Linked DNA regions of Homo sapiens: region 1 is linked to region 2. The links come from fine-mapping of genetic effects on gene expression. A gene starts in region 2. The other region holds a variant in brackets. All regions are shown on one strand. Distances are between the middles of the regions.

Region 1 (5,343 bases), 53 kb before region 2:
TTATATAAACCTCAGAGGCTGTGCGAGTCCCCCTCCCACTTTATATAAACCGCAGAGGCTGTGTGAGTCCCCCTCCCCCTTTATATAAACCTCAGAGGCTGTGCGAGTCCCCCTCCCCCTTTATATAAACCGCAGAGGCTGTGAGTCCCTCCCCCTTTATATAAACCACAGAGGCTGTGCGAGTCCCCCTCCCCCTTTATATAAACCTCAGAGGCTGAGTCCTTCCCCCTTTATATAAACCTCAAAGGCTGTGTGTGCAAGTCCCTCCCTTATATAAACCTCAGAGGCTATGTATGCGAGTCCCCCACCCTTATATAAACCTGCTGAAACTCTGCTGGGCACTCAGTACTGGCACCAGGAGTGCCCTCCCAGGTAAGAGGGCATTAATCTTTAAGACTAGCTGAAGTGCAGCACGGAATACGGTCGTACTTGAGCTGCTGGAGGCAGCTGTTCAGGTTCTTGAGGGGCTCCTTGCTCACGGCGGGCGGTGGTCTCAGCAGCTCCTCCAGCAGCGAGGCGGGAACTGGGCAGTCCGGGATCTTGATGGGCGTGGCAGGGTTGGAAGAGCTGGCCTCGCCTTTCGGCTCCTTTCTCTGTTTTTAAAAGCACATGATCAGCTTTCCCACCGTCCCCTCCCTCGGGTCAGTCTCACTAGCACAGCTTGTGGCAAACGGGCCTCCCCAACTGGTGGACGTGGGGCCTCTGGGAAGGGGACCGTCCTGGCCGCCGTGGCAGCCCAGCACGACAGTCCCCGGAGCTCCAGAATAGCTGGCTGAGGAAACACCTTTATTCCTAAGGCACAAAACCAGAGCAAAGCAGAGACAACCTAAGTCCTGGGTCTGCGGCAGGACGGGGCCGAGCCACAGACTACAGCTCTCCCAGACGCTTCTCCCATCAGATACTCAAGACCTTGATGTGGAATTTCCGTAAGAAATTAAGTAAGTTTTCCAGCTTAGGCTCCCTTTTCTGGGACTTCAAACTTTTTCCACAGATAAGCACACGACGCTAAACGGCCTCTCAATCCGAGCGCTGCCCTCCCACCTGCCTCCTGGAAAACATGGATGTGGACCGAGCACAGAAAACCGCCGGGCGCCTGGGCACAGCTCCCGGGCCCCAGCCCTTCACACACAGCAGGGACTGCCGAGTCACAGACCACCGCTCATCTGCTTTACAAAGCACATTACAACAAAGTGGTATTTGAATTCACAGAACGAGGAAAACACTGTTGGATGAATGAAACCAGAATGAAATGATTTCATCTGTCACCCCATTACCACTGACTACACAGCAGCTGCTCAGTGTGGGCTCAACAAATCCGTTTATGTCTGAATGACTAACACGTCTGCCAGCCTCCTGTCCGAGAGCATCTACAGCGCACGTCGGCTACCCCGGGAGGGACGCGGGCCTGAGTACCGTCTTGGCCGCGCCGCGGCGTAGGTCCAGCTTGAGCTGCTGGTTCTGCTGGAGCAGGGTCTTCATGTTGTTCTTCAGCTCCGACACTTTTGCCTGGAGCATAAATTTATCCTTCTGGGTCATGGACAGGTCTTCCTGGGCCATCTCCAACTCAGACTTGACGTTCTGTGGAAAATGAAGTCAGATTTTTAAAAGCTAACAGATCTTAAACATCCTGCCAAGATCCGAGTTTGTATTTTCATAGGTTAAGCACACACATGTCCTCCTCGGCGCCATCTAGATGATGCCAGTCCAGGTCCAAAATGCTCAGGACCAGAAGTGTGTCAAATTTTGGAATTTTGAATATTTGCGTTACAACTACCAGCTGAGTATCCACAATCCAAAAATTTGAAATGTTCCAATGATCATTTCCTTTATCATGTTGATGCTCAGAAAGTTTCAGATTTTGGATTTTTGTTCTTGTTTTTTTTAGACACAGGGTCTCACTCTGTCATCCAGGCTGGAGTGCAGTGGTCCAACCACAGCTCACTGCCTAAGTGCTGGGACTACAGGTGTGAGCCACCAGGCCTGGCCAGGTTTTGGATTTCTGGATGATGGACGCTTGTCGGCCTGTGTCTATAAATAAATTCTCACTGTAACTCAAGCCCCTCATTTACAAGGGGAACTTAGCAATTACACTCCTTTCCCGAGCAGTCAAGACCGAACCCTGAGTTCTTTGTTGAGAAGTTTATCGCAAATTGGCAAACTTTTCCCACGCACCCTCCCATTTGCTGTAGTCCATGAAATCACGTTCTTGGTCCGTGACACACAGCGCGGCCAAGGGATCGGAGCCGGCCCAGGCTTCGCCCCTGCCTCTGTCCTGCCGCATGACGTGGACCAGGTGGCTTTGCGAGCGCCCCACTGGACGAGGGCGCCAGCTCCCCGGGAGCACTGCCTGGCCGCAGGCCGCATGGCACAGGAACCAGGGGCTGCCCC[A/C]GAAGTGGTGCTCCCGCCTGTGTCCAGCACCTCATACACAGGTACCTGCAGCAGCTGCTGTAGCCCCTCCAGCTCCTTCCTCCCTGCTGCTCCCGCCTGTGTCCAGCACCTCATACACAGGTACCTGCAGCAGCTGCTGTAGCCCCTCCAGCTCCTTCCTGCCCTGCTGCTCCCGCCTGTGCCCAGCGCCTCAGATACAGGTACCTGCAGCAGCTGCTGTAGCCCCTCCAGCTCCTTCCTCCCTGCTGCTCCCGCCTGTACCCAGAGCCTCACACAGGTACCCGCAGCAGCTGCTGTAGCCCCTCCAGCTCCTTCCTCCCTGCTGCTCCCGCCTGTACCCAGCGCCTCACACACAGGTACCCGCAGCAGCTGCTGTAGCCCCTCCAGTTCCTTCCTCCCTGCTGCTCCCGCCTGTGCCCAGCGCCTCACACACAGGTACCCGCAGCAGCTGCTGTAGCCCCTCCAGCTCCTTCCTCCCTGCTGCTCCCGCCTGTGCCCAGCGCCTCACACACAGGTACCTGCAGCAGCTGCTGTAGCCCTTCCAGTTCCTTCCTGCCCTGCTGCTCCGTCAAGTCCAGCTGCTGCTTCAAGGACTGGATTTCTCTTTCTTTCTGATCCACCTCCCATTTGAGATTTTCCATCTAAAGAGGGGAAAGTCACATGGCCAAAAGAATATTAAAGTGGCTTTACTGCCCTGGAAAATGGCTCTAGCTGTGTTTTGGTTTATCTTTTAATACCATATTCAGAAAACCATCACTGTTGCTCCCCAAGCAGGATGGAGTGAAGTCACCCAGGGCACCCGTGAGTCCAGCCCTGCAAGTCCAGCCCCCGTGAACCGTCACCTCTTGGTTTCCCACGGGCTGTTTGCTGAGCTGCTCGTCCAGCTGCTTCTGCAGGAGCTGGAGCTGTGCCCGGGCCTCGGCCAGCTCTGCTTGGAACTGTGCTATCTCCTGGGAATGTTTCCCCTCCCGAATCCTAGCGTAAAAAAACAAGAAAGAAGGGAATCGCCACGCTCCTCCAGTGTGCTGTGCCCTCCCGCTGGGAAATGCTGCCTGTGGAAGGCGTTCGTCCTGGCAGGCCCTCTGCTGTGCACTGCGTGCTGCAGCCATGCTTGGTGCCCACAGTGTGCACTCGGGCAGTCCTCACGAAGCACCTGAGACTCACACTTCACTGGCACCCCTCACAGATCCCAGAGACTCACTTTGCCGGCACCCCTCACAGATCCCAGAGAGTGCCGGCCCCGAGACCACAGTGCATGGGACCCACAGAGCCACAGCATCAGCCCCGCGCCGGGCCGCCCCTTCCCGCCTCTGACCTGAAGCTAAGTACTCCTGCTGGGGCGCTTTCTCTCTTGGGGGGAGGACACGGGGCAGTGAGTGAGGCTCAGGATTCTGGAGACGGAGGCTGGGTGCCTTCTACTCCTATGATTCACTCAAGTACTCGGCAATTTGCAAAATATAGATGACCCTCGCTGTGCTGAAGGTGTGAATTAGACCCCGCCCATTGCCAGGACAGCCATGTTTGAGGGCTGGCGGGGCCCAGGCACTCACTGAAGGTCGTCGGCCTCGGCCTGCAGCTTCTGCACCAGGTGTTCCTTGGCCTGCAGCTCCTTCTTCACCTCACTCAGCTCCAAGGAGGCCGCCTTGAAGTGGCGGCGGTTATGCCCGGCTTCCACCTTGGCAGCAGCCACCTAGGAGGAAGGAAGCCACGTTGTCCATGCCCTGCGTGACACCCACAGCTTTATGACGTGCCGGGCGCAGGGGGTGAATGCACTCCCGGCCCCGTGCATGTCCTGGCTGCCGGCGTGTGCTTCTCCACAGGCCTGTCAAGTTCCTTGTAAAGATGAAACCACCTGACCCGGAGCTCGGCACGCAGCAAGTGCACACTTATGTGGCTGCTGCTATCTGTTGAATGAACACATTTATTCGAGATTTCTCGGTCTAAATAGTTTTTATAGTCTTCTTCCAGTGTATTCACAGCCTGGACAACATAGCAAGACCCTGTCTCCACAAAAAATAAAAAAATTAGCAGGGCATGGTGGTCCCAGGTACTCAGGAGGCTGAGGTGGAAGGATCACTTGAGCTCAGGAGTTCCAGGCTGCAGGGGAGCTGTGATCGCGCCACTGCACTCCAGCTGGGGTGACAGAGTGAGACCCGGTCCCAAAAATGAAATAAATAGGCCAGGCGTGGCGGCTCACGCCTGTAATCCCAGCACTGTGGGAGGCCGAGGCGGGTGGATCACGAGGTCAGATCGAGACTATCCTGGCTAACACGGGGAAACCCCGTCTCTACTAAAAATACAAAAAATTAGCCAGGCGTGGTGGCGGGCACCTGTAGTCCCAGCTACTCAGGAGGCTGAGGCAGGAGAATGGCGTGAACCCGGGAGGTGGAGCTTGCAGTGAGCCGAGATCGCGCCACTGCACTCCGGCCTGGGCGACAGAGCGAGACTCCATCTCAAAATCTCAAAAAAATAAACAAATAAATAAATAAAAATAATAAAATAAAATAAATACATTTAAAAAATAAAAATAAAATTAATTGGAAGGCCAAGGCGGGCAGGTCATCAGGTCAGGAGATTGAGACCATCCTGGCTAATATGGTGAAACCCCATCTCTACTAAAATACAAAAAATTAGCCAGGCATGGTGGTGCACGCCTGTAGTTCCAGCTACTGGGGAGGCTGAGGCAGGAGAATCACTTGAACCCGGGAGGCAGAGGTTACAGTGAACCAAGATTAAGCCACTGCACTCCAGCCTGGTGACAAAGTGAGACTCCGTCTGAAAAAAAAAAAACCGAAAAAAATTCAGTGAACCCTAAGCACGGAGCGAAAGCTGGAGAGCTGGGGCACCGTGTGAGCCAGCCTGAACCACGGCCCAGCAGCAGGCCCCAGGCCAGGGTTAAACGGCCGGGCGGATGAGGCCTGTGGGGCCAAGAGAAAGCTGTTAACTGCTCCTGTT
Region 2 (5,373 bases):
ACCTCTCCAGAACAGAGACCCCATGACGGTGACTGTAAGTCACAAAGACGGCCCCTCTTTACAGGCAGCTCCTCCTGAAGCCGGACCAGAGAGAGAATTCACTAACTGCCTGGAGTTTGGTGACAGTGATACTTCTCCCTGTAGGGCAATAAGCTGGCAGTCTCGGTCGATTCCCAGTCTTGCTTGATTTTTAGTTAAAATTTGGAATGACTCAGTCGTCAGGGCCTCATTACCTCAGACTACTGACAAAAAGCGATCTCCGGGCAGCGAGGAGGAGGAGCAACTGCCAGTGCATCACAGAAAGCTGGTACTACAAACATGGCTCTATTTTAAATAAAGAGGCCAGTCTAATCAGTCTCACTTATGATCACTCGCACTCCTGCGTCTCTAGAGAGAAGAGACAGGACAAAGCTGTCACTTAGAACTGCGAAAGGTACACACAACCCTAGGTTCACAGCTGGGTAACATCAAGGGACTTCATACTGAGAAACCACCACCTCAGGCACCTACAGGACTTTCTGCTTCCCCCACACCTGAATTCTGTATACAAACATTCACGGCTCCATCTACACCACCTCGTTTCACCTGTTCCTATCGGGTATTAGAAACAACAGAGCACAGCCAAAAACCAAACACGATTTCCTCAGGAAAAGAGTACCTGGTGGAGGCCACACTAGTATCCAAAAGTAAACACAGATCTATACACAAAGTGAAAACCAAAAGCAAGCAAGCCTCATGTCACTGCAGAGACGTGAAGGGCAGGCTTGGAAGTCAGGACTCCGGCCTCAGCTCCCGACCCTCCACCACTTACCTGTGAGAGCCTGGGCTAAAGATTTCTTAATCACATTTAGCCTGTTTCCTCACCAGTAAAACAATGAGAAAATGAACGCAAAATTTTGCCAGGATTAAATATAACAAGGCACAGAGTCTGTCCCGTGTCCTCAATAAAATGACAGTAATTATCACGATTTTCCCTTTAGTTGTTGCTTGTCAAAATCGCTAAAAGCCAACTGAAGGCATTCTCACTTGGGAAAGTATGCTACTTCTTAAGGCAATCGGGGGAAAAAAAGCTCCTCTTCAATCTGAGTGATGTCAGATGATTTATTTCCTTCTTGCCATTTAAGGTATACTGCCTGAAAAGATATTAAAGGGTTATAAAGCGCTATGTTGATGTCGTTTAAAAGACAGTTCAAAATAATCCACGACGACGGGTGTGGCTGCTCACACCTGTAACACCAGCACTTTGGGAGGCTGGGGTGGGAGGATCGCTTGAGGCCAGGAGTTCCACACCAGCCTGGGCAATACAGCAACACACCCAGTCTCTTAAAAAAAAAAAAAAAATCCATGAGTCATCTGTAAATGGCTTACACTGGCCCAGTGACAATAAACTCCAACCTCTTAAGAATCCAGCACCTGCCTACACCAACATCCTTACCGCCATCGCTTTCCCCCTTTGCCATTACACTGTGGCCACATCCTCCGCCCTCAGGGTCTTCAAACTTTCTGCCTGAGGCGCGCTTTTCTCACAATTTTGCCTGGCTTGCTTCTCGTCATAGAGGCCTTAGCACGGAAGTCGCCCGCCCCCCAGGCTCCCACTTAGAGTAGCGGACCCCACCCAACCACCGCCCGGTACCCTCTCGCTGGCGACCCTGGGTGTCCCTGTCCTAGGTGGGCTCCGCGGGGGCAGTGACCCAGACCCACAATACCCAGGACCCGCCACACGACTGACATTCGTCGGGTTCATACCCGTGACAACGCCCGGCCCCACTCGCTCTGGCCACCTGGAATGAAGACAAGTCGGCCAGCGACAAAGACAAACAAGGAAGTACACGGACTCCTGAAACCCCGACTTCCCACGAACCACCCGACACCATGTCACGCCTTTCAGCTGCAAAGGGCCAGGCTAAAGCAAGCACTGCCCGAGTGGTGGCAGTGGACAGCTTCGGGACAGGCCGCGCTCGTCGGGCGCAGACAAGCATTCAGGAGGGCTCGCGGGCACCGGCATTTACAGAGCCAGCTCCGCCGCAGCTGAAGGCGGGCGCCCAGGCCCGAGGCCACCGCAGCGAGGCGGGGGTGACTGGAACGGGGCCGTCCCGCCACGCTGCAGGGACGCGCCCAGGCCCCGCCGCCGCCCCTCGAGCCTCCCCCGCCCATGCACTGCGGGAGCGGGAGCGGGAGCGGGAGCCCGAGCCCCGAGGCGCCGCGGCCTCCGAGCCCCTCACCCTGCTGCTCTGGCAGCCCCGGAGGCCGCCCGGCCCGGATGCTCCGGCGGAGACGTGGCCGTGAGAGGGGCGGGGCGAGCGGTGCATCGGCCTCGGGTCCCCGGAAACAGCCTGCACGCGCTACTTTCGTTCCGGAACAGAGAACGTCCTCCTCTTCTTCAAGTGGCCACCCTAGGGCCGGGGACCCTCTGCCCACAGGGTCCGGATCGAGCTCACCTCCGACTGTGATGAGGCCGCCTTCAGAAAGTGACCTTAAGAGTTTGCGGACCTTTCCCTAGTAGAAACGCAACTTCCGGAACTGCAGGACCAACTCTTTCAGGAAGCTGAACCGAGCTTCCGGCGGAAGTGGCGTGGCCGGGGCTCGGCATGGGCGCGGCCGAGCTCGGTGTGGGCGTGACTTCCCCGCCCGCCCTAGTCGGGTCCCCGCCCCAACCCCGCACCTCCACCCGGCCGGCGCCCTTCGCGCTTCAGGTGCCAGATCAAAGGCGACGCTGCTTTGGACCCTATTTGCTTCCCCTTTAAAAAGGGCAAAGCTGGACGGCGCGGGCCGCTGGCCGCTGGGGAACGGCTTTCCACCTTCCCTCATCCGCCAGGCCGCTCTTCCAGCTGTCAGGAAGGAAATGGCCTGGAGGGCGCCTCGGGGTCCTCTGTGATGTTGCGCTCATCTCTGCGGATTTTGGAATACGCTTCAGTCTACGAAGTTTTCTGGGATTTTGATGGGAACTGCTGCAGATCGTTTGGGGAGCACGGGCATCGCTGACTCGGTCCTTCATCTGCGTCCCTGGTGGCCCCTCCATTTATTTCGGTCTTTTGATTTCTTCCACCAGCATTTTGTAATTTCAGCATACAGATTCTGCACCTTTTAAGTTTATAGTATTTCACATCAAACAACTGTAACACTGCGTTTTTGACGTTTTCCACGTGTTCACTGTTGGTCTACACAAATGTGATGAATTCTATGTTGATTTTCTTATCCTGAGACCTCGCTGAACTCATTAGTTTGAGGGTTCATTTGGTGTTTTGCGGTTGTTGTTGTAAAATCCTTGTATTTTTTACATGGGCCATCATGTTATCTGCAAATGCAAATTCTAACACAAAATGATCAGACTGAGGCGTAAAATATACAACTTTTAGAAGAAAACAGAATTTCTCACATCTAGAGCTTGGGGAAGAGTTCTTAGATCTGACCAAAAAAACACAATTCACAAAAGAAGTTGATAGAGTAAACTTCATGAAAAAATTAGAAACTTTTCACCGGATGCGGTGGCTCACGCCTGTAATCCCAACACTTTGGGAGGCCAAGGTGGGCGGATTACCTGAGGTCAGGAGTTTGAGACCAGCCAGGCCAAATGGTGAAACCCATCTCTACTAAAAATATAATAATTAGCCGGGCATGGTGGCATGTGCCTGTAATCCCAGCTACTCAGGAGGCTGGAGGAGAATCGCTTGAATCCAGGAGGCGGAGAGGTTGCAGTGAGCGGAGATCGTGCCACCAGCCTGGGCAACAGAGCAAGACTCCGTCTCAAAAAAAAAAAAAAAAGCCGGGCACAGTGTCTCACGCCTGTAATTCCAGCACCTTGAGAGGCCGAGGCAGGTGGATCACAAGGTCAAGAGATCAAGACTATCCTGGCCAACATGGTGAACCCTGTCTCTATGAAAAATACAAAAAAATTAGCTGGGCGTGGTGGTGTGTGCCTGTAGTCCCAACTACTCGGGAGGCTGAGGCAGGGGGATCACTTGAACCTGGGAGGCAGAGGTTGCAGTGAGCTGAGATCGTGCCACTGCACTCCAGCCTGGGCGACAGAGCGAGACTCCATCTCAAAACAAACAAACCAACCTTGTGAGAAAGACCACATTAAGAGGATGAAAAGATGAGTTACAGACTGTGAGAAAATATTTTCAAACCACGTTTGTTGAAGGACTAGTAGCTAGAATATATAAAGAACTCTCAAAACTTGACAGTAAAAAAAAATACAATTATTCTGGGCACAATGGCTCATGCCTGTAATCTCAGCACTTTGGGAGGCTAAGGGGGCAAATCACTTGAGGCCAGGAGTTTGAGACCAGCCTGGCCAACATGGAGAAACCCTGTCTCTACTAAAAATACAAAAATTAGCCAGGCGTGGTGACGCACACCTGTAATGCCAGCTATTTGGGTGGCTGAGGCACAAGAATTGCTTGAATCTGGGAGGCGGAGGTTGCAGTGAGCTGAGATTGTGTCACTGCACTCCAACCTGGGTGACAAAATGAGACTCCATCTCAAAAAAAAAAAAACCATACACACACACAAACAGAAGACAAGCAAAAAACATGAAAACACATTTCACTAAAAGGATATATGAGTGGCAAATAAGCTTGTGACCAGGTTCAGCATCACTAGCCATTACAGAAATGCACATTAAGACTATCTTGAGGTCAGGCGCGGTGGCTCAAGCCTGTAATTCCAGCACTTTGAGAGGCCGAAGCAGGTGGATCACCTGAGGTCAGGAGTTCGAGACCAGCCTGACTAACATGGTGAAATCCTGCTTCTACTAAAAATACAAAAATTAGCTGGGCATGGTGGCAGGTACCTGTAATACCAACTACTTGGGAGGCTGAGGCAGGAGAATCGCTTGAACCTGGGAGGTGGAGGCTGCAGTGAGCTGGGATCACACCATTGCACTCCAGCCTGGGTGACACAGTCAGACTCTGTCTCAAAAAAAAAAAAAAAAAAAGACTGCCTTGGGATATTAGTATACACCTATTAGAACAGCTGAAATAATATACAGCAGTGGCAATATGAAATGCTGGGAATAATGTATTCTGGAGTAACTAATCTCTTATACATTGCTGATGGGAACAGCAATAGTGCACCCACTCTGGAATATAGTTGGGCAGTTTCTTCAAAAAGTAAACAATTTTATGACCCAGCAACTGCATTCCTAGACATTGAACTCAGAGAAATAAACTTATGTCTACACAAAAGCCTGTACATTACTGACCCCAAACTGGAAACAACCAAAATGTCCTCTGACATGGTGAAACAAACCATGGACCCCCCACGCCACTCTGACATGGTGAAACAAACCGTGGACCACCCACGCCACTCTGACGTGGCAAAACAAACTGTGGACCACCCACGCCACTCTGACGTGGTGAAACAAACCATGGA

What was found. PIP is the estimated chance that this variant, and not a neighbour inherited with it, causes the effect.
Region 1: its variant is fine-mapped to the expression of GOLGA3 in hippocampus (GTEx, PIP above 0.99).

What each region holds. Positions count from the first base shown.
Region 1 is chr12:132,773,728-132,779,070 of GRCh38, forward strand. It overlaps GOLGA3 (golgin A3), which reads right to left. Exons shown (of 24, transcript NM_001389683.1): 19 at 3,939-4,078; 20 at 3,231-3,363; 21 at 2,907-3,029; 22 at 1,414-1,578; 23 at 430-593. Among named protein-coding and RNA genes, the nearest start is that of ANKLE2, 15 kb to the left of the region's middle. The variant A/C (reference allele first, on the strand shown) is at 2,389.
Region 2 is chr12:132,826,581-132,831,953 of GRCh38, forward strand. It overlaps GOLGA3 (golgin A3), which reads right to left and starts at 2,289. Exons shown (of 24, transcript NM_001389683.1): 1 at 2,223-2,289. RefSeq lists silencers at 1,567-1,666, 2,167-2,226, 2,597-2,806 and an enhancer at 2,377-2,516.